2 separate regions of the Homo sapiens genome follow, and region 1 is linked to region 2. Evidence: fine-mapped expression QTL. A gene starts in region 2. The other region holds a variant in brackets. All regions are shown on one strand. Distances are from middle to middle. Region 1 overlaps CCDC90B-AS1 (CCDC90B antisense RNA 1). Region 2 holds the start of CCDC90B-AS1 (CCDC90B antisense RNA 1).

The links.
Region 1: its variant is fine-mapped to the expression of CCDC90B-AS1 in testis (GTEx, PIP 0.91).

What each region holds. Positions count from the first base shown.
Region 1 is chr11:83,426,369-83,441,678 of GRCh38, forward strand. It overlaps CCDC90B-AS1 (CCDC90B antisense RNA 1), which reads left to right. Exons shown (of 3, transcript NR_186344.1): 3 at 1-21. Among named protein-coding and RNA genes, the nearest start is that of CCDC90B, 150 kb to the left of the region's middle. RefSeq lists enhancers at 12,042-12,542, 14,653-15,310. The variant T/C (reference allele first, on the strand shown) is at 9,790.
Region 2 is chr11:83,280,869-83,296,178 of GRCh38, forward strand. CCDC90B-AS1 (CCDC90B antisense RNA 1) reads left to right here and starts at 5,252. Exons shown (of 3, transcript NR_186344.1): 1 at 5,252-5,679. CCDC90B (coiled-coil domain containing 90B) reads right to left here and starts at 5,499. Exons shown (of 9, transcript NM_021825.5): 1 at 5,005-5,499. The coding sequence starts at 5,104. RefSeq lists enhancers at 4,272-4,868, 4,757-4,836, 4,869-5,464, 4,887-5,536.

The sequences.
Region 1 (15,310 bases), 150 kb after region 2:
AATAAATAAATATGGCAGACATTTTTGTGTCTTCATTTTGTTGATAAGGAAGTTGAGACTCAGAGAGCTGAATGAACTTGTCTAAGCTAGTAAGTGAAGCTGGGACTTGAACTCAGAGCATTTGATTCCAAAATATGAGCTCTTTACTGTTATTTAACTGTTATTATGAGGGGAAGGAGCTTCTACATAAACCACAGGAATAAGGGGAGGATCCTCAATAAGAAGAATTAGAAAAGTAAGTAAAACTATAATTATGGGAAGAATTAGAAAAGTAAATACAACTACAATTATGAGTCTAGATTGAATTAGATGGCTTCATGGTTCTAAGAGTCTCAAATGACTTAAAGTCTGAATATGTTCAGGTTGGGCATGGTGGCTCATGTCTGTAATCCCAGCACTTTGGGAGGCTGAGGTGGGTGGATCACATGAGGTCAGGAGTTCGAGACCAGCCTGGCCAACATGGTGGAACCCCATCTCTACTAAAAATACAAAAACTAGCTTGGCTAGGTGGCAGGCGCTCAGCTACTCAGGAGGCTGAGGCAGAAGAGTCATTTGAGCCTGGGAAGCGGAGGTTGCCCTGAGCTGAGATTGCACCATTGCATTCCAGCCTGGCTGATAGAGTGAGACTGTCTCAAAAAAAAAAAAAAAAAAAAAAAATCTATCTATCTATCTATCTATCTATCTATCTATCTATCTATCTATCTATCCTATCTATCTATCTATCTATCGATATAGATATTGATAGATAGATAGATATATCTGAATATGTTCAGTTAAACCAACTGTCAGATCAGGAACAGTCATTCTAGGAAAGTTCTGTTGATTGACAGTGGCAGCAAGTGTTGTAGACAGAGCCCTGGACAGGTAATCAGGTGAGCTAGGTTCTTCCTCAACTAACTAGGTGATCTTGGGAAAGTCACTTCCCAACTGGGGCTCCCTGGACTTCAGTTTTTCTATTCACAGAATAAAGGGATTTTCCAAAAACAATTCTTGGGAACAACATCAGATCTGTGGTATATTGTATTAGTTATCAATGCCTGTGTAACAACCCACCTCAAAACCTAGTGGCTTAGAGTATCAACTATTTATTATTTTTAAAGATTCTGCAGGTTGCTTGGCTTCAACTATATTGTTTTGTATTCTGTATGGTCTTGGCTGGATTCTCTTACCTGGTTGTATTCTGCTGGGAAATTGGTTGGGGTTAGAACATCTAAGAAGGCTCCACTTACTCAGCTGAGGTGGCTGGAGAGGCTGGTGACTAGGTAGATTTCTTTATCCAATAGCATAGTTAAAGTTCTTACATAGCAGCCAGTTGCTAAGAGAGCAAAACAAGAATCTGGCAGGCCTCCTAAGGGCTAGGTCCAGAACAGACACAGCATCACTCTTGCCACGTTCTACGGAACAAAGTAAATCACAAGGCCAGCTTAGATTTTAGGGGTGGGGAGATGGACTGTTGATAGGAGGAGCAGCCTGTGCATATAGGGATGAGAGAAATTGGTGGTGGCCAATCCTGGAGACAATCTACACACACTATGAATAAAGAATTCCATGGTCATGTAAGTGTAGGAAATCTGGGTAAAACGCAATTAAGAAGGTTTCTTAGCAGCAAATCTTATTAGAGTTGTTAAAATGCTCATCAAAGTGCCAAGAATAATGTAAAGTAAAGGCAGTAAAAGAAGGGTTACAACTTTTAATTTCTAGCCTAACTTCACCCTTCCTGACCTTCCTGCCCAGATCAATCGATATGAGAGAAGAGGAAAAAAATGTAGCTAGCCAACCAGGAAATATTTATGGTTAAACTGGCTACTATACACAATTGCAGTCTTTGAGAGATGTAAAATGTCTCCAGGAAGTTGCAAAGGACCTGGACCAATTTCAGTATTTTTTCCATCCTTCATGGAAACAGATACTTTTCTTATTAAAGCCTTCTTCTGCATTAATAGGGACTCTGGACTTGTTGCTGAGCAAATGATTTCTTTCTGCCTTCAGAATCAGATTTTTAATGAGTTGCAATTATAATTGTTGTGGGAAGATAATGAAATCTGGGATGACTTTTCAATTTATGTCTCATATTAAGCAACTGGCATTTTATTAACTGTCTGGTCAGCTCAAAAGCACAAAGATGACCCAACAGAGTGGCTGATGCTCTGCAGAGACGGTGTGTGTGTGTGGAAGCAGCCTCATGTGGAAGAAATGAACAGGCTCTGCAACCTGCCTGACCTGGCTTTGAAGTCCTTTTTCTCTGCTTACTTCTTGGGAATCCTTGGGGAAGTTACAGAATTTCTGTGAGCCTCAGTTTTCTTATCTATAAAATGAGGATTAAAAGTACGTAACTTCTAAAGGTTTTAGATTGATTAAATGTAATATTATATGCTTATCTTTTTATTCCAATCACTCATTTAACAAATATTTAGTTATTGAGTGCCTAGTGAGTTGCAGGCAAGGTACTATGTGCAGGGTAGCTAGTTATGTGGGGAGCAAAGAGAAACTTCCAGGCAGAGGGAACAGCAAATTCTAAGTTTCTAGCCTAATAAAGAACTTAGTGTGTTTCAGGATCTGATACAAGAATGATCAGCATACAGTGAGGGGAAAGCTGATAAAGTAGGCAATGGAAGGAACGTGTAGGATGTAGGTAAGAAGCTTCAACTTTACTAAGTGCAATAGGAAGGCATCGTGGGATTCTGAGTACAGAAAAACATGGTCCAATTTACAGTACTCAAAAATCACTTCAGCTCCCTCTGTAGATTGGATTGAAGGTGAGCAAGAGTGGAGAGGAGGGAAACAATTAGGAAGACATGGCATAGTCCAGGAAAGAGTTGATGTTGGCATGTGCTGGGGTGGTGGTAGTGAGAATAAATATAAATTGACAAAATATTTATAGTTGAACTGGCAGGACTTGATCATGGACTGGATATAGAAAGTGAGAGAGATAAAGGGGTCAAAATTAATTTTTCTGGGTTTTGGTCTGGAAACTGGGCAGGCAGAGATTCCATTTTCTGAGAGGGGGCAAGGGCAGGTTTGCAGTGGGTGTCAGGGAGAGCTTCAGTGTGGGCATGCTATGTTTGCAAGAGAACCAGTTTAAGATGCCAAGTAGTTGACTAAATGTCTGAGACTAGGGACAAGATCTGAGGTCTTGGCTGCAGATATGAGCTTGGGGTTGTTAGCATACAGACACGGTTTAAAGCTGTGGCACTGGGTGAGATCAGAGAGGAGAAGGGCAGGAGTGAGTCTTGACCTGAATAAGATTGAATAAAGAAGAAGGAGCTAGTGGCAGAATGAGGGATGGCCAGCAGGGTGGGGGAAAAACAAAAGCATGGTGCTGAGGAAGCTAAGAGAGGAAGGAGAGTGTTTGTTAGAGGAAATATTTGAATGCTACAGAGAAGGTGAGCATGAGGAACAGTGAGTGGTCTGCCCATTGGATTTAGCACCATGGTGTGGTGTGGGTACTGGAAGAAAGAATGGGAAGTAAGGAAGTAAACGTAGTACAAATTGATACCTCTTTTGAGAAAGTATATTAGGAAGAGAGGAATGGAGGAGGTGTCTTAGAAGGAGATGTGAGATCACAGGAAGTGCAGCAGGTATTCTTGGTTGTTTCCAAAATACCCATTCTCCCCTTCTTCCTTATTGCTCTGTTTTGGGACAGCAGGATGTTTAGTTAGAAAACTGTATTTCCCTGCCTCCCTTGCTATTTGGGGAAACCAGTGAGATGTAAGTAGAATTCATTGGGTGGAGTTTGTATCTAATCTCTCTTAAAGGGACAGACTCAGTTATCTTCTTCCCTCCATATTTCCTAGATGGCAGACATGATGCCTATATTGTGTCAGGCCAGGTTTCACTAACAGCTGAACAGGCAAACCTCTAACAACTGTTTCAGCACTGACTGAGTGGTTAAGTTAAATATTAAAAGCTGAAAGAGTCAGTACCCTTATACAAAGGCTGGAATGTAACAAAAACCCACCAAGAGTTTTGCCCAGGCCTTTCTTGGGCCTTGAAGTATGATGAGATAATGAAGGAATTCTTAACAAGACCCGTTTAGGATTAAACAAGTTTTATTGAGGGTCTGAAGAAACTCCCAAGACCTCTAAAAACAAGTTTTATTGGGGATCTAAAGGAAATCCCCAAACCTCCATGATTTAGCAGGAGAGAAGATTGCCCCCAGCACCTGGATCCATCCAGATTAAGTAAATTTACAGAGGCTCCAGAGGAAGGTCTTCAAAACTCAGACCTTAGTTATTCACTCGTGTCCATATGAAGAGACCACCAAACAGGCTTGGTGTGAGCAACAAGGCTGTTTATTTCATCTGGGTGCAGGCAGGCTGAGTCTGAAAAGAGGGTCAGTGAAGCGAGATAGGGGTGGGGCTGTTTTATAAGATTTAGGTAGGTAAAGGAAAATTACAGTCAAAGGGGAGTTGTTCTCTGGCGGGCAGGAGTGTGGGTCACAAGGTGCTCAGTGGGGGAGCTTTTTGAGCCAGGAGAAGGAATTTCAGAAGGTAATGTCATTAGTTAAGGCAAGGACTGGCCATTTTCACTTCTTTTGTGGTGGAATGTCATCAGTTAAGGCAGGAACAGGCCATTTAAAATTCACTTCTTTTGTGATTCTTCAGTTACTTCAGGCCATCTGGATGTATAGGTGCAGCTCACAGGGGATAATGATGGCTTAGCTTGGGCTCAGAGGCCTGACATTCCTGTCTTCTTATATTAATAAGAAAAATAAAATAGTGTTAAAGTGTTGGGGTGGTGAAAATTTTTGGGGGTGGTATGGAGAGATAATGGGCGATGTTTCTCAGGGCTGCTTTGAGCGGGATTAGGGGTGGCATGGAAACTTAGAGTGGGAGAGATTAAGCTGAAGGAAGATTTTTTGGTAAGGGGTGATATTGTGGGGTTGTTAGAAGGAGCATTTGTCGTATAGAATTATTGGTGATGGCCTGGATACGGTTTTATATGAATTGAAAAAAGAACAGAATAAGACAAGGAGAAAAACAGGTATTAAAGGACTAAGAATTGGGAGGACCTAGGACATCCAATTAGAGAGTGCCCAAGGAGGTTCAGCATAGCCCTGCCAGCAAAGATTTATTTACTTTAAGAGGGTGTTAAGAGTGGCTATTTGGAGATAGCACCAGGAGATATGAGCTGTGATGGCTTGGAGAAACAGTGTAAACCGGCAGTGTAAACAAAAGCAGGGCATTTATGAGAAGTTGAGAATGGTGAATAGGAGTATGACTAGACAGAAGATAGTAGGGATGACAAGTTTTTTGGGGCACAGTCCAAGTTGGTCTGGTGTCTGGAATGAGACTGGGGCCTAATAAAAAGGAGCGTCTATACAGGAGCTCAAATGGGCTGTACCCTGTAGCATTCTGAGGACAGGTCCGAATTCTGAGAAGGCAAGTGGTAAAGGTATTGTCCAGTCCTTTTTAAGTTGGTGGCTGAGCTTGGTGAGGTGTGTTTTTAAAAGACCATTAGTCCGTTTTACCTTTCCTGAAGATTGAGGACCATAAGGGGTATGAAGGTTTCACTTAATACCAAGAGCCTGAGAAACTGCTTGGGTGATTTGACTAATAAAGGCCAGTCTGCTATCGGAGTGTATAGAGGTGGGAAGGCTAAACTGAGGAATTATGTCTGACAAAAGGGAAGAAATGACCGCAGTGGCCTTCTTAGACCCTGTGGGAAAGGCCTCTACCCATCCAGTGAAGGTGTCTACCCAGACCAAGAGGTATTTTAGTTTCCTGACTCGAGGCATGTGAGTAAAGTCAATTTGCCAGTACCGAGCTTGATGCGTAGGGAGGGGAGGGGGGGCCTGAGAAATCCCTGAGGAGGAGTAGAATAGCAGATGGAACACTGAGAAGTGATTTCCTTGAGGACAGATTTCCATGATGGAAAGGAAATGAGAGGTTCTAAGAGATGGGCTAGTGGCTTGTAACCTACATGGAAGAGGTTATGAAATGACGACAGAATAGAATGGGTCGGTAAGACTAGAAAAGCAGCCCAAAGTAGCTGCATGGTCTGCAAAGACTTTTCCGTATTTTATTCAAATAGCACCTCATCAGCAAACCTTAGCGAATATTCAAACTCGGTTTCGACAGTCTTCTGAATCCCAGTCAAAACATTTCAACGTACATCACTTCATCTGATCCCCCCGCAATAGGCCTGGCAGTGACTTGGGGCTGGAACCAGTATCCAGTACCTACCACAGTGCTTGGCACATGGTAATAGCTCAGCGAACTGCCATCATTTTATAAAGGAAGAGACAGGCTGGAAGGAGATATTTTCCTTGGTCTAAGAACCATTTGCCTTGTGTGGGAAGAGATTGATAAGTGGAAGTTTCAATGGGGGAGTGGGAGGGAGTGACCAAAGTGAAGAAGAAAAACTGACCGTGAGGGACAGAAGTTGGAACGCTAGCTGCTTTTTTAGCTAACTTATCAGCATAAGCATTGTCCTGAGCGATGGGATCTGATGCCTTTTTGATGGCCCTTGCAGTGAATGACTCCAGCTTCCTTTGGAAGTAAAGTGGCTTTGAGAAGCGTTTTTATTAAAGAGGCATTAATGATAGAGGACCCTTGTGTAGTGAGGAAACCTGTTGCATGGTGGTGCAGGATATGGAAGGCATGTTTAGAGTCAGTATAAATATTGATGTGTAGTCCTTTTGCAAGAGTGAGGGCTTGACTTAAGGCAATGAGAGGTAGTGGAGGGGGGCAGAGCTGTAGCCTCAATGATAGATGTGGAAGATACAATGGCATAGCCTGCCTTTGCTGGTGAGTGGCGATTAGGCCTGTTGGAACTGCCATCAATAAAGCAAGTGTGTTCACGGTGAGGAACAGGAAAGAAGGAAATATGGGGAAATGGGGTGAATGTCAGGTGGATCAGAAAGATACTGTCATGGGGGTCAGGTGTGGTATCTGGAATAATGTGGTAGGCCCAATTGAAGTCTGGGCCAGGAACAATGGTAATTGTGGGAGACTCAACAAAGAGTGAGTACAGCTGAAGGAGCCGGGGAGCAGAAAGTGTATGTGTCAGGTGTGAGGAAGAAAATAGATTTTGGAAGTTATGAGAACGGTAGAGAGTGAGTTGAGCATAGTTTATGATTTTAACGGCCTCTACAAGTATTAGGGCAGCGGCAGCCACTGCACGCAGGCTTGAGGGCTAGGCAAAAGAGTCAGGTCAAGTTGGATAAAAAAGCTACAGGGTGTGGTCTTGGTCCTTGTATAAGAATCCTGACTGCACAGCCCTGCACTTCAGCTGTGGGTAATGAAAAGGGTTGGGATGAGTCAGGGAGAGCTAGGGTGGGGGCAGTCTCTAAAGCTGTCTTCAAGGAACAGAAAGAGGAGTGGGGAAAGGATTTAGGATCTATGGGGTCAGCTAGGTTTCCTTTTGTGAGTTTATATAATGGTTTTGTTAGGATGGCAAAACCAGGTATCTAAAGTCGAAAGTATCTAACCATGCCTAAGAAGGAAAGGAGTTGTTTTGTAGAAGGTGTTGGGGTTTGAGAGATCAGTGGGACATGATCAGCAGGGAGAGCATGTGTGTTTTTATGAGAATTATGCTGAGATAGGTAACAGATGAGGAAGAAATTTGGGCTTGACTGAAGTAATGGGAGCTGTCTGTGAAGCTTTGTGGCAGTACAGCCCCGGTAATTTGCTGAGCCTGATGGGTGTCAGGGTCAGCCCAAGGGAAAGCGAAGAGAGGCTGGGATGAAGGGTGCAAAGGAATAGTAAAGAAAGCATGTTTGAGATCCAGAACAGAATAATGGATTGTGGAGGGAGGTGTTGAGGATAGGAGAGTATATGGATTTGGCACCACGGGGTGGATAGGCAAAACAATTTGGTTGATAAGATGCAGATCCTGAACTAACCTGTAAGCCTTGTCTGGTTTTACGACAGGTGAAATGGGGGAATTTTAAGGGGAGTTTATAGGCTTTAAAAGGCCATGCTGTAGCAGGTGAGTGATAACAGACTTTAATCCTTTTAAAGCGTGCTGTGGGATGGCATATTGGCATTGTGCGAGGTAAGGGTGATGAGGTTTTAATGGGATGGTAAGGGGTGCGTGATCAGTCACTAAGGAGGGAGTAGAGGTATCCTATACTTGTGGGTTAAGGTGGGGAGATTCAAGGGGAGGATGTGAAGAAGGCTTTGAACTGGGGGAAAAGGCAGCAAGGAGGTGTGGCTGTAGCCCAGGAATAGTCAGGGAAGCAGATAATTTAAAGTGTCTCAGCCTAATGGGGAGGTCGGGATAACTGAAAAGGAGTGCTTAAAAGCGTATTGTCTAAGTTGACACCAGAGTTGGGGAGTTTTAAGAGGTTTAGAAGCCTGGCCTTCAATGCCCACAACAGTTACGGAGGCAAGGGAAACAGGCCCTTGAAAAGAAGGTAATGTGGAGTGGGTAGCCTCCGTATTGATTAAGAAGGGGACGGACTTATCCTCCACTGTGAGAGTTACCTGAAGATCGGCATCCCTGATGGTCTAGGGGGCTTCTGAGGTGATCGAGCAGCGTCAGTCTTCAGCTGCTAAGCTGAAGGAGTCAGTCAGAGAGCCTTGGGCCAGAGTTCCAGGGGCTCTGGAAGCGGCTGCCAGGTGAGTTGAACAGCCTGATTTTCAGTGGGGTCCTGCACAGATGGGACATGGCTTAGGAATCCCAGGCTGGGGGCATTCCTTGGCCCAGTGGCCAGATTTCCGGCACTTGTAGCAAGCTCCTGGGGGAGGTGGGGTTGGTGGAATGCCTGGCAGCTGCGGTTCAGGCGTTTGGAAGTTCTTGTGTGCTGGAGATGTGGCTGGGGTTTGTCTCACAGTGGAGGCAAGGAATTGCAACTCAGAAATACATTGCTACTTGGCTGCCTCTACTCTATTATTGTACACCTTGAAGGCAAGGTTAATTAAGTCCTGTTGTGGGGTTTGAGGGCCGGAATTTAATTTTTGGAGCTTTATTTAATGTCGGGAGCAGATTGGGTAATAAAATAAAATGCATATTGAGAGTAAGACGGCCTTCTGACCTTTCAGGGTCTAGGGCTGTAAAGTGTCTCAGGGTTGCTGCTAACTGGGCCATGAACTGGGCTGGGTTTTTCGTATTTCATGAGAAAGAGCCTAAATGCTAATTTATTTGGGAGAGGTCGGATAAAGAAAAAGGAGCATTAACCTTGACTATGCCTTTAGCTCCAGCCACCTTTTTAAGAGGAAATTGCTGGGCAGGTGGTGGAACAGAACTGTAAGCCGGACCGAGTGTGAGGAGGGAAGGTGATAAAAGGATTATAGGGTGGAGGAGCAGAGGCTGAGGAAGAATTGGGACCTAGCTCGGGCTGGCGAGGAGGGGAGAGGTCAGATGGGTCTGTAGAAAAGGAAGATTAGAAAGACTCAGCGACGCTTGGGGTTGGGACTGAGGGGACAGGCAGGAGGGAAAGAAGAAAGATTTGGGACAAGTTGCATTGGGAACAGAAACTAGAGAGGGACCGATTTGTGAAAGAACGCCTGGCCATCAGGCACCTCAGATCATTTGCCTATTTTATGACAAGAATTATTTAGATCTTGGAGGATGGAAAAATCAAAAGTGCCATTTTCTGGCTATTTGGAACCACTGTCAAGTTTGTATTGGGGTCAAGCAGCATTGCAGAAGAAAATAAGGTGTTTAGGTTTTAGGTCAGGTGACAGTTGAGGTTTTAAGTTCTTGAGAACACAGGTGGATCTTTCTCACAGAGCAAAGAGCAGGACAGGGGATTGATCTCCCGAGGGAGATTCCCCCCTCCCATCCAAGTCAGGGCACGAAAATTTCACTCGCGTCCATGTGAAGAGACCACCAAACAGGCTT[T/C]GTGTGAGCAACAAGGCTGTTTATTTCACCTGGGTGCAGGCAGGCTGAGTCTGAAAAGAGATTCAGTGAAGGGAGAATAGGGGTCGGGCCGTTTTATAAGATTTAGGTATGTAAAGGAAAATTACAGTCAAAGGAGGGGGGTTCTCTGGCGGGCAGGAGTGGGGGTCCAGGGTGCTCAGTGGGGGAGCTTTTTGAGCCAGGATGAGCCAGGAGAAGGAATTTCAGAAGGTAATGTCATTAGTTAAGGCAAGGACTGGCCATTTTCACTTCTTTTGTGGTGGAATGTCATCAGTTAAGGCAGGAACAGGCCATTTAAAATTCACTCCTTTTGTGATTCTTCAGTTACTTCTGGCCATCTGGATGTATAGGTGCAGGTCACAGGGGATATGATGGCTTAGCTTGGGCTTAAGAGGCCTGAGAGTTATAGATTAGAAGTTAATCACTTGCGTCTTTAGAGGCATACACACTTAAATGTAGACGTATAGCTTAGAAGGTACATAAGCTCTGGAAAACTTTGTAATTTTGAGTTGGTCTGGCAATATTTTCCAGGCCTTCTTTCTGTACCTGGTTACAGAAAAAAACTCCCCTCTTTTCCCAGTTCATCTGCATCTCATTATTGGGCCATAAGAATAAACAGCCTGACCCTCGGTTTGGTCCAGGAACAATATGAAGCAACCATGAGAAGACCTCCAGGAGAGAAGCGCCAGTTAAGGAAACAGAATAGAAAGATTGGGAAGTAAACTAGGGCATGAAAAATATTTTTAGAGATGAGATACCAGAGTATGTTTGCATGTTGGTGTGAGCCAGGGGCATGATGGCAGGACTGCAGCCCTTGAAAAGGCCAGAGTAGAGAGATCCTGGGCATATGTTGATGACTTGGCCTTTGACAGGCTGCTGCAGAGGGTGTAGGACACTTCCAGTGCTCCTTTCCTGAGGAAAATACCTGTGGCAACTCTCACATTCCATTGCCCTTTTCATCCTTTGTCCTTTTCCCCACAGACTGGAAACTTCTGTCTCTTCCTCCTCAAAGTCATTCCTCACACTGCTGCCACAGTGAGCGTTCTAAAACGCACATATGATTTTTAAAACACTGAGGAGCTCCTCATTGCTTACAGGATGAAGTAACATCCTTGCCTTGTATTTAGACATTCTCTCCTTGGTCTTTTCAGCTTCCAGTCTTCAGCATTTCCTAAGCATTCTATGTACCAGGCATACCTGGCTGTTTGCACGTCCCTAAAGGTGCCTGTATTTTCCCCACTATATGCATTTCTTCATACTTTCCCCTTGTCCTATACCCTTCTTTCTTTCTCTTTGCACAGATTTACCTTCAAGGAGCATTCTCTGCCTACTCCCACTCCAGGTTCCCACTGCAGATTCTCCTTAACTCTGTGAGCTGCCCAGAAGTCTCCCATAAAATATATATTCTTGACTAAATTAGCTGGAGTTTATGGATCAGAGATGCCATATAAAATATAATTTTGGCCAGGTGTGGTGGCTCACGCCTGTAATCCCAGTACTTTGGGAGGCTGAGGTGGGTGAATCACCTAAAGTCAGGAGTTCAAGACCAGCCTGGCCAACATGGTGAAACCCTGTCTCTACTAAAAATACAAAAATTACCAGGCATGATGGTGGGTGCCTGTAATTCCAGCTACTATTGGGGAGCTGAGGCAGGAGAATCACTTGAACCTGGGAGATGGAGGTTGGAGTGAAAATTATATATATTATTTTATATAATACAGTTAGTCCCTTGCAATAATTTCAGACATTCCCTTTAAGCAAAGATTATTCTCCTCAGGTGAACATTCTGTCCCTCAGGTTTCTGACTGCAGTTCTGCTCCTTGCTAAGACAGCCTCTGGGTGATCGGGGCCAGGTTGTGGCTTACAGTGTCCTCTTGGCAGTGGGAAGGAAAGAGTCCTTTGGATTCACGTGGTGTCCTGAGATCATTCTGGTTGCTATGACAGTGTCTTTTGTTTCTATGACAACATCCCTTGTTGACTTGAGGGATGCTTGCCCTACTGGCATTTGTATCTGAAATCAAAACTGGTATTGCTTGCAGCCCAGTTTCTCTAGGTGTGGCAGAGGCTGCAGTGCTTCCTGGCTACCAATCTCACTCTCCGCAGAGCCTCTCATGTTCCCCATTGGTTTCAGGTTGGGGGTGGGATGGGGCGTTGGAGTAGGGCTCAGCCTTCTCTGCTAAGTCACCCCTTACCACAGGAGGTCCCATGGTTGGAATGCTGGCTCTCAGATTCAGCCACCTTCTGGTTCCCATTTTTAGGGCCCATTGGGGACTCCCAGGTTCCAACATATCTTACAGAAAGAGCAGCTCAGGAGAGCTGAGCTCTGGCTGTCCCATTCTGACCATGCTGTGCCACTGAGTTTTACTCTGATGTGGCCAATCCCCAAGTTCTTATGGACATGCTAGGGTATCTGGCCCACAAGATGAGACTTCCTCTTTTTTTTTTTTTGAGACAGTCTTGCTCTGTCGCCCAGTCTGAAGTGCTATGGCACAATCTTGGCTCACTTCCTCTCAGGGTTCCAGATAGGTCAGAGGGCTCCTGACCATGCCCTAATTGTTCTCCTCACTTATAGGGTTTCAGCCCAAGGAGAGAAACTGGAACAGTTTGTCTACCTCCCGACCTTTTTTTCCTTTCTTCTGTCCACCCTCTGCCTTCTGTAGCCTTGGATTATAAGGGATGGGCTTCTCTTTTACTTCTTCTATTTCATGGTATCTTCCTTTTTCCCTGCCTGTAGGAATTCTCTTGCCTCAGCCTCCCGAGTAGCTGGGATTACAGGTGTGTGCCACCATGCCTGGCTAATTTTTGTATTTTTAGTAGAGACTGGGTTTCACCATGTTGGCCAGGCTGGTCTTGAACTCCTGACCTCGGGTGATCCACCTGCCTCGGCCTCCCAAAGTGCTGGGATTACAGGCATGAGCCACCGCACCTGGCCTTCTACCTCTAGTTTTATGGCTCTCTAATCTACATTATAGGGAAAATTCTATATCAAGCTGATATGTTAAATGCACATAAAAATTTTAGACTTTCAGACCTATTGTCTTGCTTTCAGCAGCTATTATTTTTCTTTACATTTCTTCTTCAACAATCCAACTTTCCCTTTGCCCATCCCTTTCCCCACCTGCTGCCAGCAAAGGTAGATAACATGGCTGACTGGAGAAGTACGTGTAATGTACATGTAAGTCTATATTAGTATTTTCAAGTATTTTCTACCTTTCACTAAATAATCCTGACACAAGCAGCATGATACACAATTCATAATTTGCCTGCAGATAACTTAATCTTGTCTATTTGCTAAGGCCTTTCCAAGTATTATCCAAAAGGGAGTTGATTCAGAGCACAGAGAAAAACAGATGGGACCAGTGCATTGGCAGTGGCAGGAAGGCAGGAGGCTCAGGTCAGGTTTGATGAGCGGAAGCTAACCCCACACCTCCTGATGCCGTGGAGTGTTGCAAACCACCTGGAACCCAAGTGTCACCTGTGGAGACTGCAGGAAGCAGAGGCAAGGGGGGGTTGACAATCGTAGGTCACTGGATAAACCACTGCATTTGACTGAGTGGATCTACACACGAGTAGGGTACTTTATGAGGAAAACTGAGGGCTGACTTAATAACAATTCAAAATGATGCTACATAAACAAATTTTTACCTTCGGATTTTTTACTACAAACATTATCTCCCTCTTAAGTTGGCTTTGTTGCCCTTTATATCAATTATTCACTAGTTATTTTTCCATGCCTCAGATGTGTGAAACCCTTAAAGAATTACAATGAAGATGTTTACCATCAAGTGTGGAAAAAAGTAGCGTGAGCCTGAGATAATCAAGAGACCATTAAATGTCAGAATGTGAGAGACTTGAAGCCTCTTGAAGACTCTTTTTTCTTTTTGTTTTGAGACAGTCTCGCTCTGTCGCCAGGCTGCAGTACAGTGGCACAATCTCAGCTCACTGCAACCTGTGCCTCCCGGGTTCAAGCGATTCTCCTGTCTCAGCCTCCCAAGTAGCTGGGATTAGAGATATGTTCCACCATGCCCAGTTAATTTTTGTATTTTTAGTAGAGACAGGGTTTCACCGTGTTGGCCAGGCTGGTCTTGAACTCATGACCTCGTGATCTACTTGCCTCAGCTTCCCAAAGTGCTGGGATTACAGGTGTGAGCCACTGTGCCTGGTCTCTTCAAGATTTTCTTAAGCAGAGGGTCCTGTACTGGATCTGCTGAGTCAGAAAGAAATAAAGAGATGAAAAATGATTGGCCTCAGGTTTCTCATTGTTGGAGTAAGAGTTTACACACAAGTCAGAGGAAGAGGCTTGATTGGTCCATGTGGTGATGAGTTAGACTAGAGATATCAGTAGAAACTCATGTTTAGCTTAATATAGATACAGATGGTTGCATATATAAATGTTTCTATATTCACCAGTTACTATACACATATTCATTACCTTGCTCTGTCAACTGAGAGGATCTAGAGGAAATAATGTCCCATTAGCAAAGAACACACCTAGTACCCAGATTTTAATTTTTAATAACATTCTCCAATAAAAAAGCCTTGGAGAAATGGCTGACTCTAGGATTGGTAGGACTGGGCAAGAAATATACAAAATAAGCCTGAGCCTCTTGTAGTATAGAAAGTAAGAAAATGCTCAAAAAATCCACAATAGTGGGAGTATGTCAAAGGAGCATCAGAGTTAACTGAAAAAGCTCTCAATGGACAAAGCTGAAACAATTTGTATAGCAAAATAAAGTAGTTCTGGATTATAATACTATCAGATAAACTAAACTGCAAAACTAAACTAAATAAACTATAAAACTATCAGATAAATATCCAAGAATCCCTCTTGATAGAAACAAATTATTGAATAAATAGAGGCAAATGGACAACTCTTCCATACAGAAAAGTTTCAAATAATTCATGTAGCTACTTTGCACTTGTATTAGTCCACTTAAATACTGCTGTAAAGAACTGCCCAAGACTGAGTAATTTATAAAAGAAAGAGGTTTAATTGACTCCCAGTTTAGCATGGCTGGGGAGGCCTCAGGAAATTTACAATCATGGCGGAAGGGGAAGGGGAAGGGGAAGCAAGACACCTTTTTCACAAGGTGGCAGGAAGAAGTGCCAAGTGAAGAGGGAAGACCCCCCCTATAAAACCATCAGATATTGTGAGAACTCACTCACTAGCTAGCACAAGAACAGCAGGGGGCAACCACCTCCGTGATTCAGTTACCTCCACCTGGTCCCTCCCTTGACACGTGCGGATTATTTGCATTACAATTCAAGATGAGATTTAGGTGGGGACACAAAGCCTAAAAATATCAGCAATCAAGGATGAAAAGCATGACTCCCTACTCATTAAATGTGGGCTTCACACAGTGACTTCTTTCCAAAGAGTACAGTATGAAATGGAGGAAAAAAGAGTAACTTTACAGTAGAAAAACTTGAAAAACAGTACCTGGGCCAGGTGATCAAGGTTAGATCCACAGTAATAGTCGTGGACCCTTGATGTGGTAAGAAT
Region 2 (15,310 bases):
TTTACTGTTGATTCAATCAATGAATTTGATTTGAAATCATGGACGTATTTACTGGTATCAACATAAGAACCCTAAGAAAAATTTCTCATTTCTGAAATAACCCTTCTTGTCCTATTTCAATAAATTCCCCAAGTTTTAACCTAGACACAGTAAAGACCTTTTCTATATATTGCTGATGAATTTATTACAAGGTGCCCTGCCCATAAACAACTTTTGGGAAGGTGAAGGAGTTACCTTTACAGAGCCAATGGCAGAATTAGGATTCAGACTCAGGTACTTCTGACTCCAAATCTTACACTCCATGCTGTCTCTCTTATGTATCTTAAGTCACTTAAAATATCTAGATATTTAAAAGGCTGCAACTTCAGGCATTATTTTTCCACTAGTACTGTGTAGGACAAATGTGATTCCTTCTTTATATCCTTCTAGCCTAATGAATATTGATTGAGTGCTAGAACTTGTGCCAGGCATAGGGGATAAAATCATAAGCAAAACCAGACATAAATGATATTCTCACTGATTTTATGGACTAGAAGGCAGGAAACAGATATTGTTTTTTTTAAAAAATCTAACAATAAACTCTAAATTCAAATGATAAAAGATTCATTAAAATACTCCAAAAAATTCTATTTAACTGAAGAGATAAAAGCAAGTAGCTGTAAATAAAGGTGGAGCAATTTTTAAAAACACACATATTAGTACACTGGTCAGTAATCTTTTTCACTTGAATGTCATCTAGAAGGGTAAAGAACTATGCCTTTGTGTGTAAATATCAGACCTAAGGTAGGAGAGAAAAAGAAAAATTAGAGGAAAAAGGGGCAGATTTCAGTAGTTTCAATAACAACTGCATTAGGAGTAATGATGGTACTCTTAGTTACATATTCCTGATTAGAAGTTTATTTGGATTTAGAAAAAAAAAATCAGTAATAATATTTAAATAATATTTTACTGTTTTCACATCTATTACCCCATCCTTAAAATTCTCATTTTATGGATGAGGTAAATTGAGGCTCAGGGCTAAGTATGGATGCTCCTCAGCTTATAAAAGGGTTATGTCCCAATAAATCCATCATAAATTGAAAATATCCTAAGCTGAAAATGCATTTAATACACCTAACCTGCTGAACATCACAGCTTAGCCTGGCTTACCTCAAGCTTGTCGAGAACACTTACGTTAGCCTATAGTTGGCCAAAATCATCTAACACAAAGCCTACTTTATAATAAAGTGTTGAATATTTCATGTAGACACCCAGATGGGCATTTTGTAAACACGATGGGATGCAAAAACAAAACCCAAAAACCCTGGCAATACTAAGTATTGGTTGTTTGCCCTTGTGATCAATGGCTAACTGGGAGCTGCGGCTTGCTGCCCCTGCCCAGTATTGCAAGAATACTGCATTATCGTTAGCTTAGGAAAGGATCAAAATTCAAAGTACAGTTTCTACTGAATGCACACTGTTTTTGCACCATGGTAAAGTCAAAAATTTTTAAGTTAAACTATCTTAAGTTGAGGACTGTCTGTAATTAGTCTGAGATCTTATGGTCTCATAGCTAGGCAGATTAGTACAGTTCCTCTGACTTAGTCAACAAACACTCTGAATACCAGCAGCTTCCTGCTAAATTTGGGATAGAGACCAAATACCTTAACAAGCCAATAAATCTTTGTAGGGTGCAGCTCGTCTCATGTCCTACTATGCTCTCTCTGGTCCTCTGCTTTCAAGGGCTCTTTGATTTTAATTCCACAAACATGCCATGTGCTTTCCCTTCTCAGGGCCTTTGCCTAGCCCCTGCCCTGTTCAGAAAGCTCTCCTTTTCTTTGCCTGCTCATGTTTATCCTTCAGAGCTCAGTCTGAATGTTTCTTCCTCTGGAAAGCCTGATGACTCCTTTAGGTTATGTCTCTCTCATGATGGTTTTTCATAGTACTGCACAGGATTCTTTTGCAAACCCTCTCATAATTTACACATTTATGTGACTCTCAGTTGTCTCCCCAAGAGACCAGCAGTCAGCCAACTATAGCCCATAGACTACCACCGCCTGTTTTTCTAGTTTTATTCATTAGAACTAGATAGTTTTATTAGAACACAGCTCATTCATTTATGGATTAATCTATGGCTACTTTCATGCTACAGTGGCAAAGCAAATAGTTGTGACTGACCTTACAGCCTACAAAGCCTGAAATATTTATTAGGCTCTTTACAGAAAGTTTGTCAACCCCTGCACTAAACTATACAGTCCTTGAGAGCAGGGACCACATCTGTTCTTGCTCACTACTGAATCCCCAATGCCTACACAATTCTGGATGCTCCATAGATACTTGCTGAATGAAAGGCACTGTGCTTGGCATTATGTATACACAATGATGAATAATACAAAGGAGAAGCATTTGGCCCTCCTTGAGAATAAAGGATCAAGAATGGCTATTTGGATGATGGTAGAACTATATTAAATCTGAGAGAAGTTATCCAGACAGGATGAATGAAATCAGCAAAATCTAGGCATGGGCTGCCTTTGCTATTCTCTTGGCTTCTATTTATTATGGGGTTAAGGAGAGCTGAGAATACAGAAGGATATGTAAAACATTATTCCTTATATGTGCTCAAATATTCACATAATATTTTGCTTAGTCCTCCCAATCCTATGAGGTAGGTATTGACACCCACTGGCAGTAGAACTTTGGGTTTCACTCCACTTTGGAAGCCATAAGGAACTGGAAAAACCATTGGATATTCATAGTAGGGTGTCATAATCACTATTCCAACTGTGTCATGGGCAGTTCAGTGCATAAGCACTCATTAAGAATGTCTTTACAGGCCGGGTGCAGTGGCTTATGCCTGTAATCCTAGCACTTTGGGAAGCCAAGGCAGGCGGATTGCTTGAGCCTAGGAGTTTGAGATCAGCCTGGGCAACGTGGGAAGATTCTGTCCCTACACAAATTACAAAAACTAGCTGGGCATGGTGGTGTGTGCCTGTAGTCCCAGCTACTTGGGAGGCTGAAGTGGGAGGATCACCTGAGCCTGGGAGGCACAGGCTGCAGGGAGCCGAGATGGCGCCAAGGCACACCAGCCTGAGTGACAGAGACCCTGTCTCAAAAAAATAAAAAATAAAAATAAGTAAGTCTTTGCAGCCATATTAATAGGTAGGGGAGATGAAGTGCCCAGAATCAGTGTTTCCAGCTCAAAGTGGAATAACAGATCCTTAATAATTTGAAGAGTTTTGTACAGACTTAAACATCTGTACAAAACCCCAAACCTTTCCTTTCATTGTTACTACTTTTGTTTCTTTGATACCTATCTTGTGGATTTGTTTGTTCGTAATAGCGAGATACAAACTCAAGAGTTTAAAGGTTTAACCAGTTTCACAAAACTACTAAGTCATAGATTGTGGATTGGAACTCTGGCCTATCTTGCACCAAGCTCCTCTTTGCTGGAAAAGGTCAAATTTTACTTTTGAAAAAACAACCAAGCAAACATGTAAAGTGTTGTCCCATTAAATTTAAGCTGCAAGTTTTATATTAATTTACTGCTAATTTTACAGCTGAAACACTTCAGTGTATAGCCAGTTACTTTTCTGTCAGGAATTCAAAAGAACAGGCATTAACAGCATATATTCTTACATGCTGGTCTACTAACGTGCTACACTAGTTGCACTAGAATAACTAAGGTCCTTCCATTGGTCAGAGGTCAAGGTTTTCAAATCCCTTGATTATTGACATTATTAGGCAAGTTTAAACTACTTGTATAAAATAAACATTCAATATTTGTTTAGTGAGGAAGGACACAAATCCTACTAGTTGTAAGAAGAGATTTAAGGTTTCTCCAAGAACACTCAGATTCAAGTGGGATAACTTTTATGTTAAAACATTAACATGTACTTATGGTCATTTATTTCCCAGTATGATATACACTTCAAAGTTCATTCTCTAAGAACATTTAATTTTGTTTTCATTTGGATATGTAAAAGTCAACAAAGATGGCAGCTGGATGACTTCCTGGAGTTCAAAAGTGCTACCTCCTTTTTGTAAAATCCATCATAATGTGTATGTATGCTAAACACTCAAATACCTAACAAAAGAGACCTTGTGAATGACCCTGGCAGCTAAACAGCAATCTCACAGATGGAGGATCAACAACTGCAGTTTTGACTGCAGCTGTTACTGGTGTGGATTAAAATGAAACAATGAGCAAAATAGCACAAGTAACAATATGGAGTATAAATAACAGCGTAGAAGTGTTTGGGTACCGAATGGCTCAGCGTACCTGGCACTGAAGATTCAAGAAGGTGAACAGAGATAAGAGGTGCCTATTCGCCTATTTTGTGGACAACCTTAAAACGGTTTAAAAACTGGGAGGGAAGTTAAAAAACTGGGGGTGAAAAACAACGACGACAACAAAAACCTAGCCCTAGAAACATTTCTCTGAATAAAGTTAGATGTCTTCAGGACACCCTGTTAACAGGGGTGCCAACAGGTTGGAAACTTGTGGGTTCCAGTATTCACTTATTTTCCCAAAGTCTACAATGTGACTGAAATGTACTGAGAATTCCAGTGAGAATAAGGCAGACGTGGCCTGAAATTTATGATGCTGTCTACCAAAAACCTGGGCTCGAGGCCAGCACCTAAAAAAACAAAATCAAAATTTGATCAGGCCACAAAAGAAAACAGGACACCCTCAAACACAGATTACCTTACGTTGGCTCCTGACGAGATTACTAGCCTCTTGTCACCAAAAAACGGAAACAACGGCTGAGAAAGAAGCCGGGCGCGAAGCCCAGGCCTTCAAAGGTTCGCTTTAAGAACAGAAAGGCAGTGCTTTCCTCAGTCCTCGCCCCTTGGGGCGAGCTGGGCAAGTCGGGGCAGCAGGCAGCGGCGTCGCCCAGCACAAGGCGTGAATCCGGGAGGAGGGCGTGGCACCTTCTCTTCCCGTTCGCTCGAGCAGGCGCGACCCCACGGGCATCGTCTCCCTAGAGAGCACTCAGGCATCTATGACACGACGCCTTGCCTCACCTCTCCGCAGGGCCGGCGAGAAATGCCCGCGGGGCCTTGAAACCCAACGATCTCCTCTGCCTTGGGAGAGAAAGAGCCGCCAAGCCTGGCGACTATTCATGTCCTCAGAGTTTTCCGGTGGGAGGGAGGCGGAAGACGGGGTAAATCTCGCACAGGCTTTCGGGCAAGGTAGTTCTGGCACCACAGGAATGCTGGGAATTGTAGTTTTCGCTCTGTCACAAGCTCACCTCCCAGCGCAGGCGCCACCGTGGTCCCACGAAACTGGGTCTCTTCACAGACAGACCCACAGTTCGCGAGCATGGCTCAGCGCTGCCCCGCTTCTCCCAGCGCCCCTTCCCGACCTTTGAACGCCTTCACCGCCCTAGGAAAGCGAGATCTTGTCAGAGAACCTTCCGGCGCCTGTTTCCTGGCAGTGGGGCATAGTCCAACAGCTGGCTCCCCCAAGATAGCCAGCGGCCATTACGCGCTTGGGTCGGGGGAGATGGAGTCGCATTTAGCCGCACAGCAGCCTGGAACCTGAAGTTTTCGGCCGCTGAGCGTTCTGGGTGATTGCGTAGTGCGAGGGCCAACGAAACCTTCTGGGAAGTGTAGTCCAGCAAGCCGCTCACTTTTCGTGAGGCGTCACATCCTGCTGCTTCACCCTCTGGTGCACGGGAGGACCAACTATTTCAGTCGGTATGTCCTTTCTTTAGGGAAGCCGAATTCCTCCGTTTCTAGGAGAAATTCCTTGAATTTTCACCATTTATCCTTCTCAGACCTCAGTTACTCAAGACTGCTCCGCATAGTAAAATGCTGAAAGCAACAATGCACAGTAGTTGTATTAAAATGCACTAATACTCATGAATATTCTCTGTAAGTTGTAAAATGGCACACAGTTGTGCGGTGTTAGTGGCTTACTCTCTCAAGATTCTAAACAATTACGGCTAGGTTTCTATCTATATGTATTCAAAGCTTTGTGAGAGTCAACTAAGTAACAAACACCATTTCTAAGGCCCGAAGCACATTGAAAGAACAAAACTTGATTCCCGCCAACAACTGCTTTAACAGACAATTCATGAAGAGGAAATATAAATTGCTATTTAAAACACTGGGATGGCTGGGCGTGGTGGCTCATGCCTGTAATTCCAGCACTTTGGGAGGCCGAGGCGGGCAGATCACCTGAGGTCGGGAGTTCGAGACCAACCTGACCAACGTGGAGAAACCCTGTCTATATTAAAAATACAAAATTAGCCGGGCGTGGTGGCACATGCCTGTAATCCCAGCTACTCAGGAGGCTGAGGTAGGAGAATCGCTTGAATCCTGGAGGCGGAGGTTGCAGTGAGTCGAGATCACACCATTGCACTCCAGCCTGGGCGACAGAGTGAGACTCGATCTAAAAAAAAAAAAAAAAAATTGGGAAAAAAGTTTGATCTTACCAGTTTCAAAATACAAAACGCAAAACCTTAGGGTATATCGAGGTTAGGGGTCCCAATGATCCCAACAGGATGTAAGCATAGTACTCAACAGGTGCTTTTTCAACCCATGCCCCTCTGTCCGTCTCCCCCTTTCCTCATCTAATGATCCTCAATGCCTGTTGTTTCCACGTTTACCATCATATATTCAATGTTTAGCTCCTACTTATAAGTGAGAACATGTGTATTTGGTTTTCTGTTCTTGGCATTAGGTTGCATAGGATAATGGCTCCAGTTCCATCCATGTTGCTACAAAGAGTATAATTTCCTTATTTTTATGGCTGCATTATATTCCATGGTGTATATGTACCACATTTTCTTTATCCAGTCCACTGTTGATGGGCACTTAGGTTGATTTCATGTCCTTGCTATCGTGAATGGCACTACAATGAACATACGGTTGCATGTGTCTTTTTTTTTTTTTTTTTTTTTTTGGCTTGAGGCAGGGTTTTGCTGCGTCACTCAGGCTGGAGTGCAGTCGTGCATGGCTCACTGCAGCCTCAACTTCCTGGGCTTAACTGATCCTCCTGCCTCAGGCTTCCAAGTAGCTGTGACTACAGGTGTGCACTACCACAACTGGCTAATTTTTGCATGTTTTGTAGAGATGGGGTCTTGCCATGTTGCCCAGGCTGGTCCAGAACTCCTGGGCTCAAACTATCCACCCGCCTAGGCCTCCCAAGTGCTGGGATTACAGGCATGAGCTGCGGTGCCCAGCTCTGTGTCTTTTTGATGGCATGAATTATTTTCCTTTGGGTATATACCCAGTAGTGGGATTGCTGGGTTGAATGGTAGTTGTATTTTAAGTTCTTTGAGAAATCTCCAAACTGCTTTCCATAGTGGCTGAACTAGTTTGCATTCCCATCAACAGAGTATAAGCATTCCCTTTTCTTCACAGCCTAACCAATATGTGAATTTTTTTTCTTAATAATTGCCATTCTGATGGGTGTGAGATGGCATCTCATTGTAGTTTTGATTTGCATTTCTCTAATGATCAGTGGTGTTGAGGATTTTTTCATGTTTGTTGGCTATTTGTATGTCTTCTTTTGAGAAGTGTGTGTTCATGTCCTTTGCTCATTTTTTAATTGGATTGTTTTATACTTCTTGGTTTGTTTAAATTCCTTATAGATTCTGGATGTTAGACCTTTGTCAGATGCATAGTTTGCAAATATTTTCTCCTTCCCATTCTTAGGCTATCTGTTTACTCTGTTGGTAATTTCTTTTGCTGTGCAGAAGCTCTTTAATTAGGTCCCACTTGTCAGTTTTTATTTTTGTTGTAATTGCTGTTGGGGACTTAGCTATAAATTCTTTTCCAAAGCCTGTGTCAAGAAGGGTATTTCCTAGTTTTTTTTCTAGAGTTTTTATAGTTTGAGGGCTTACTTTTAAATCTTTAATCCAGCTTGTGGTAATTTTTGTATATGGTGAGAGGTAGGGGGGTCCAGTTTCATTCTTCTGCATATGGCTAGCCAGTTATCCCACCACCATTTACTGAATAGGGAATGCTATCCGTGTTGCTTATTTTTGTTGATTTTGTTGAAGACCAGATGGTTTTAGGTGTGTGGCTTTATTTCTGGGTTCTCTATTCTGTTCTACTGGTCTATGTGTCTGTTTTTGTAACACTACCATGCTGTTTTGATTAGTTTAGCCTTATAGTATTGTTTGAAGTCTTGCTTTGTTCTTTTTGCTTAAGATTGCTTTGACTATTCAGGCTCTTTTTTGGTTCCAAATTAATTTTAGAAGAGGTTTTTCTAGTTCTGTGAAAAATGATGTTGGTATTTTGATAAGGATAGCGTTAAATCTGTAATTTGTTTTGGATAGTATGGCCATTTTAACTGTATTGATTCTTCCAACCCATGAGCATGGAATATTTCTCCATTTATTTGTGTTGTCTCTGCTTTCTTTCAGTAGTGTTTTGTAGTTCTCCTTGCAGAGATCTTTCACCTCCCTGGTGAGATGATCCTGAGTATTCCATTTTCTTTGTGCCTATTGTAAATGGGATTGTGTTCTTGATTTGATTCTCAGCTAGAACATTATTGGTGTATAAAAATGCTACTGATTTTTTGTGCATTGATTGTGTATCCTGAAACTTTACTGAATTTGTTTATCAGTTCCAGGGGCCTTTGGGAGAGTCTTTAGGGTTTTCTAGGTGTAGAATCATATCGTTGGCAAAGAGAGATAGTTTACCTTCCTCTCTTCCTATTTGAATATCTTTATTTATTTCTCTTGCCTGATTGCCCTGGCTGGGACTTCCAGTACTATGTTGAATAAGGGTGGTGAGAATGGGCATCCTTTTCTTGTTCCAGTTCTCAAGGGGAATGTGTTTCCAGTTTTGGCCTTTAGCAATTTAGTAATATATTTATGAAACTCCAAAAAGTAAATAGCCAGAGTTTCACTTCTTCTTTTTTTTTTTTTTTTTTGAGACAGAGTCTTGCTCTATCACCCAGGCTGGAGTGCAACGGTGTGATCTTGGCTCACTGCAACCTCAGCCTCCCGGGTTCAAGCAATTCTCCTGCCTCAGCCTCCCAAGTAGCTGGGATTACAGGCATGCGCTGCCACACCCAGCTAATTTTTGTATTTTTAGTAGAGGTGGGGTTTCGCCATGCTGGTCAGGCTGGTCTTGAACTCCTGACCTCAGGTGATCCACCCATCTCGGTCTCTCAGAGTGCTGGGATTACAGGCAACTGTGAGCCACCGCACCTGGCCTAGAGTTTCACTTCTAAGAAGCTATCCATAGTAAATAATCACATCTGTAGCTAAGATTTTTGAAAAGGATGACTATTGCAATGTTATTTATAGTAGTGAAAAATTGAAAATAGTCTAAGTATTCAAAAGTGATTAAATAACTTGCAGAAGTGTCCCAATTTGGAATATTATGCAAGAATTTAGTATTTTTAAAAATAATCTTAGTGACAGGAAAATCCTTAATACATGTATATACATAATTATAATTCTGTATAATTCTTATATACAGGATTATAATTATAATTATATACATGATTATAATTCTGTTAAATGATAGGATCCCTGCTTGGGAGGAGCTAACAGGCTAGTGGAAGATACAGACCAGTAAGTGTTATCACAATATTTTACTTAACTTAAGGAATTATTATGAAAAAAGTGGATCTCTTTATATATTAATTCATGTTACTATTATTTATATTAACATAAAGCTCTCTCTGTAACACACATATACAGTGTTGATTATGTTCTCTTTGATGGAAGTGGCAATTAGATCCAGGGATTCTTAATCATTCTCTGAGGCTGGCTGGAACTATATCAAGTGAGTGCAGGAGCTTGGGTCATCCATAATCTACCATGCAGGCCAGAGAAGCATAGGAAGGAAAAGCAGGAATAGCAGATGAAGTGAGTCCAGATAGTATTCAGCTAATAGATACAGCTCCTCTCTGAGACCTCCTAATGCTCCTGTGTATTTTCAGATTCTCCTTGGTTGCTATTGTTTCTTTGTTAAACATCTTAATTTATAAAAATATTTTTCCATAAATTTGTTAATGTTTTCTCATGTTTGTTGAGAGGAATAGAAAAGATGATGCATCTAAAATACTTAGCACTGGACCTGGCATATACAAGCACCCAATAAACAATAATAATACCTGCTTACTCAGAGTTAGGAAATAATTTCCATGGGTGTCTCATGTTTCTGTATGTTTTACAAATGGAGGTCTTCTCTGCCTTTTGTTGTGGCAGTTTTGTATAACGAACAACCTTAGGAAATATAGCATCTCTCTCTGGAGCAAAAGGCCTCATGCTTACTGCCTATTATAAAAGATTTGTGTTCTCATAGGTCAGGGTTCCTCTCTGTAATGCAATGTACTGTACGTGCTCAGGCATCTACGTAGCCCCAGCTGCATCATCCCCATGAACTTGGGGCCAAGGGGAGCTGACACAAATATGCCGATACTCGTGCTGCTCGCTGCACCATCAGTAATTGGGTTCTTTGTTTCTAGCAAGGAGTCTCATATCTTCTACCAGCATCCATGCAACCATGACAGGATAACTTGATAGCCTGCTAATAGGGTAAGATCTCGGACCCTTCACAATATTATTCTTCTCTGGACTTTTAAACATTTTTCATTTTTCCAGTTTTACTTACAGAAATATCTGAGTGCCAGCTAGGTTTAAGGTTAGATGTGAGGAATGTAAAGAAAACCAGTTCAATCCAACAACTATTCAAGTTCTTACTACGTGCAGGGATTTCTGCTAGGATACGCAAGGATTGCAAAGATTTCTGCTCTCCAGTAATTTGTAATATATTAATAACTGAGAGAATAGAACAAGCATTTTAATAGCCTTCAACACAGAGCTTTAATAGGTTAGTGTCATGTAAATGTTAAGAAAATAATAAATCCTATAATTCAGTTGAAGGTTAAATGCTTTTTGATAATGGTTATCAAGAAGAGATAGGATTTGAACCTTAGGGGTTTTAGTTAGTAGAGGTTGTAAGGCAAGGGGTCCAGGAGAGAGGATTGGAGTGAGCAAGTACAATTTACTCATCGCTTTGCTCCTTCCTACTCAGGGACTTTGCATATGGTAAAGCATCACTACTCAACTTGGAGCTCTTTCTCCTCTTTATCTGGCCAATTCCTTTATATCTTTCAGATTCCAGTTTAAATGGTGACTTTTTAGAGTAACTCTTTAAGAAGTCATTCCCACTCAAACAACATGCAGATTTGGTACTTTTGTTATGGACTCATACAGCAACCCAGCCTTCCCATGTCTCTGCACTTAATATTTGTTTTCTCCATTATGGTAGAGACCATATGTGTCATGGTGTCTCCAGTGCTTATCATGCCTGGGCCATAACAAGCTTTTGGTAAGTGTGTGTTGAATGAATGAGTGAATGTTCAAAATATGGTCATAGTTTGGTGAGGAAACTTCGTAGACTGGGGCATAGGAATTATATGAAGACTGGGTGGAATTGGGGTGAACAAAATGAAAAAGGTAGAATAAAAAAGACTAAGGAAATTGAATTTCATACAGTGGACTTGCAGGAGATTTTGAAATTTTTTGAGCTAAAATAGATAAAAATCAGTTTGAATTTCTTTCTAGAAAATAACTATTTGCCATTTGCTAGTGTAGGCAAATGAATCCTTTCCTCTTCCAATGTCTGATGAGATGGCCTGGACATGAGAAATGCTCCCCTGCTGAAAGCAGCCTAGTTTATCTAAATCTCAAAGGCCAACAGGGTAGCAGGGAAGTGGGTCCTGGTTTTTTTCATTGCAAATAACCACTTTTTTTTTTTTACCTTTATAAGCTCCCATTTAAAACACAGCTTACACTCTTTACCAACAACATGTATGAAGCCACTACTTATTTTCCTATTTTCCATTAATTCAAGATAAGTTACTGTTGGTGAGTGGGAGATAAGCAGTGCTGATTTAACAGTAAGCTGATAAATTTACAGGGGAAGGCGAAGATACTTGCCAATTTCTTCAGTGGTTTCCAATTTCATCTCCAGCAATGATACAATTTTTTGAGGCATTTTAATATGTCCAAATCCTCTTGAGGACCCCATTGCTCCAGTACTCTTTCCTCTGATGTTTAGAGGTCTGGGGTCCCAGCTTGGGCACAATTGTATCAGATGACCAGAGATCACCCAGGACTACGACTATAGCTCTGGTGACTTCACGGAGAGAGAATGCAGCCTGGACCACTCACATGTGTCAGTCATTTTCTCTTGGAATAGGTGATGTGAAGGAATCTCGATGTGTTTTAAAGCCTGTGAATGAGGCATTGAGAAAGAGAGAGCTCTGGACCAAATGGGTTTCATTTTCTTCCTTAGCTTACTTGGAGCTCTTGCCACTAGGGGGAGGATGTGAAAAGAACCAAGGACAATTCTTTGCTTCTTTGCTCTCATCTCTGAAGCTGAGTCAGAGGGCCCATTGTCACAAAAGCTTTGTGTAGCTTTATGTTAATTTCACATTTTGCATGGCTGGAAAGTGACTATCAGCCCGTATTCCCTGAAAATCTGGGGAAATTTTTTTTTTCCTAATTATACAGGGAGGCTGGCAATGACACCCGATTCCGAGTTTGCCCATTAAAATAAATCAAAGAAAAGAATGATTAAAAGAATGGTAGAAAAGAAGAAGAAAGAGCTGTCAAAACATTATATACTTTGCAATGTTACATCATAACCTGGTGTCTCTCATCGATTACTCATTTTTTCTTTGAATGACTATTGAACACTATTTATGGTGCCAGGCACTGTGCTAAGCCATGAAGATATAAACATAAAACACAGTCCTGCTCTCAGATTGTCAACAGTCTATTGTAATAAATATTATGATGAAGGGTAGTATAGGCTGCCAAGGGAATGCATAAGAGAGGCTTATATTACCCTAAGCAGGGATCCGTCGGAAGGCATTAGTTTGAAAGGATGTGTGAAAGACAGTTTGGTTAAATGGATTTGGTGAATGGTGGTGTGGAGTACGTTGTGTGGAAAAGGCAACAGCACTTGCAAAAGCCGGGAAGTGTGTGTGAGAGAGCCTGGTTCATTTGGGAATGGAGAGAATGGCTGGAGCAATGGGTTAAGGGTAGGGAAATTCAGAAGGTGAGGTTGGAAAAGGTGAGGCTGGCCTTCAAGGTCTTTTTTACTTTATCCATGAGTAAGAGGAATCACTGAAGGGCATTAGGCTAGGGAGTAGCTTTGAAAAGAAAGGTGGCCAGGCATGGTGGTTCACCCTGTCATCTCAGCAGTTTGGGAGGCCAAGGTGAGAGGATCAGTGGAGCCCAGGAATTTGAGACCAGCCTGGGCAACATAGCGAGCTCCTGTCTCTATAAAAATTAAAAAAAATTAGCCGGGCAATGGGACACATGCCTGTAGTCCCAGTTACACAGGGGGCTGAGGTGGGAAGATCTCTTGAGCCCAGGAGGTCAAGGCTACAGTGAGCCCTGATTGCACCACTGCACTCCAGCCTGGGCAACAGAGACCCTGTCTCAAAAACGAAAACGAAAAAATGAAAAGAAAAGGAAAAAAACCAAAAGGGTGTTTGCCTGCCCTTTGCTGAGTCCTTCAGCGGTCAAGGCTGTGTATTTCACCTAGATTCCCTGTCCTAGGTACTGATCTGGAAAACCCTAGACATCTGCCCCTTTCCTGGTCAGAGAAGACCCCTGGCCTGGCAGAGCCTACAGCTCCAGCCTCAAGGTACCTGATTGGAGAAGTCCTCCTCATTGTATGACTTGGCTGCCTTGGACCTCACTGGGAAAGACTAGGGAAATAGGATTTTGGGGTCTTGACTTTGGAATTCATTTTCCGCACTGGGGTATAGCAGAGCTGAAAAATCTCACTAAACTCTCAGCATGGTCTGTATCCTTCCTGTCTCCAACAACAAGGTGGGGCATTCTTCCTCAAAAATTCTTCACATGTAGGTGTTGCCTCATCTCTTATCTCACACACATGAGCTCATTTGAGCTCTTTGGCAACTCCGTGAGCTGGGTACCATTGCTCCTGTTTCATAGATGGGAAAACAGGTTCAGAAGGCTGAAGTGACTTGTCCCAGGTCACAGAGCAAGTACGTGGTAGAACTCATAATCGATTGTGCTGCACACTGCATAGATAAGTCACCCCTGTTCCTTCCACCAATTTATTTTAACTGGGTACATGGCACAAATTGTGAAATTATGTGTACTCTTAGGGACACATCATCCCTCATCCTCCAAGAAACTGTTAGTACAGAAGTGACAAATGGGTTTCATCTTCATGCCAATACCCTTCAATTGACCGTGGCTGCTTAGAACAAAGTGATGAGTGTTGTGAGGCCATATCTTGGTGCAGCAGTAAAGAATACATGATTGATTGGTAGTATCTGATATGAATGCAGGAGAGAAAGGGGGCAGCACATATGCCATTTCTAGATTATATATTCCCCTTAGGCTGCCATAATCCTGCACTGGCCATGACATTTCCACTGACTCCCACCTTCATCCCAACACCCATTTTGCTCATTTTCTCTTATTCCTTCCCTTCCTTGCTGAAATTGTTCCCACCCATTTAACAATAGCTTCAACTTACTGAGGGTTTAGTGGGTACCAGGCACTTTGCGTATATTATTTCTAATTCTCCAACAATCATGTAAGGTAGGTAGAGACAAAAACAAGACTTAGAGGGGTTAAGTAGCTTGTTCAGGGACATACAACAAGCTGGAATTTCAACCCTGAAGCACATGGAAAACTTTGCATTTTTATAATGGGTAATGAAAACCTTCATATTCACTGTTTGCTTTGAGCCTCACAACAGCCTCGGGAGGTAGTTTTCTGGGTTTGCAACTGAGGGAGCTTGAGGCTCAGGGGAGAGGCGCTGATTATTTAGTGACATAGTCACAGCTCCTGACTCCTACCTCAGGCCTTTTCCTGCTACTACCTTAGGCTCTGGGGAAGAGCCCTTGACTCCACAAAGCTATCTCTTAAGAACTGATCTATACTACTGTGGGGAGAATTTGGGGGCCCTTCATTGATTTTACTCCTGCCAGCCTTACCCTGTTTTCAGCTCTTATCATCAAGAAGGTCTTTCTTTTATTGTTAGCTCTTTGTGTAATTTAGGTCATTTCTTTAAAAAAATTTGTTGAGAAATTCACGTCACATAAAATTAACCATTTAAACGTGAACAACTCAGTAGCATTTAGTACACTTACAATGTTGTGCAACTACCACCTCTATCTAGTTCCAAAATATTTCCATCACTCCAAAGTAAAATTCCTGACCTATTTAGCAGGTTTTTCCCCTTCCCCACTCCTCTCAGCCCCTGACTAACACCGATCTGTGTTCTGTCTCTATGGATTCATCTATTCTGGATGTATCACGTAAATTGAATCATACATGTGACCTTTTGTATATGGCTTTTT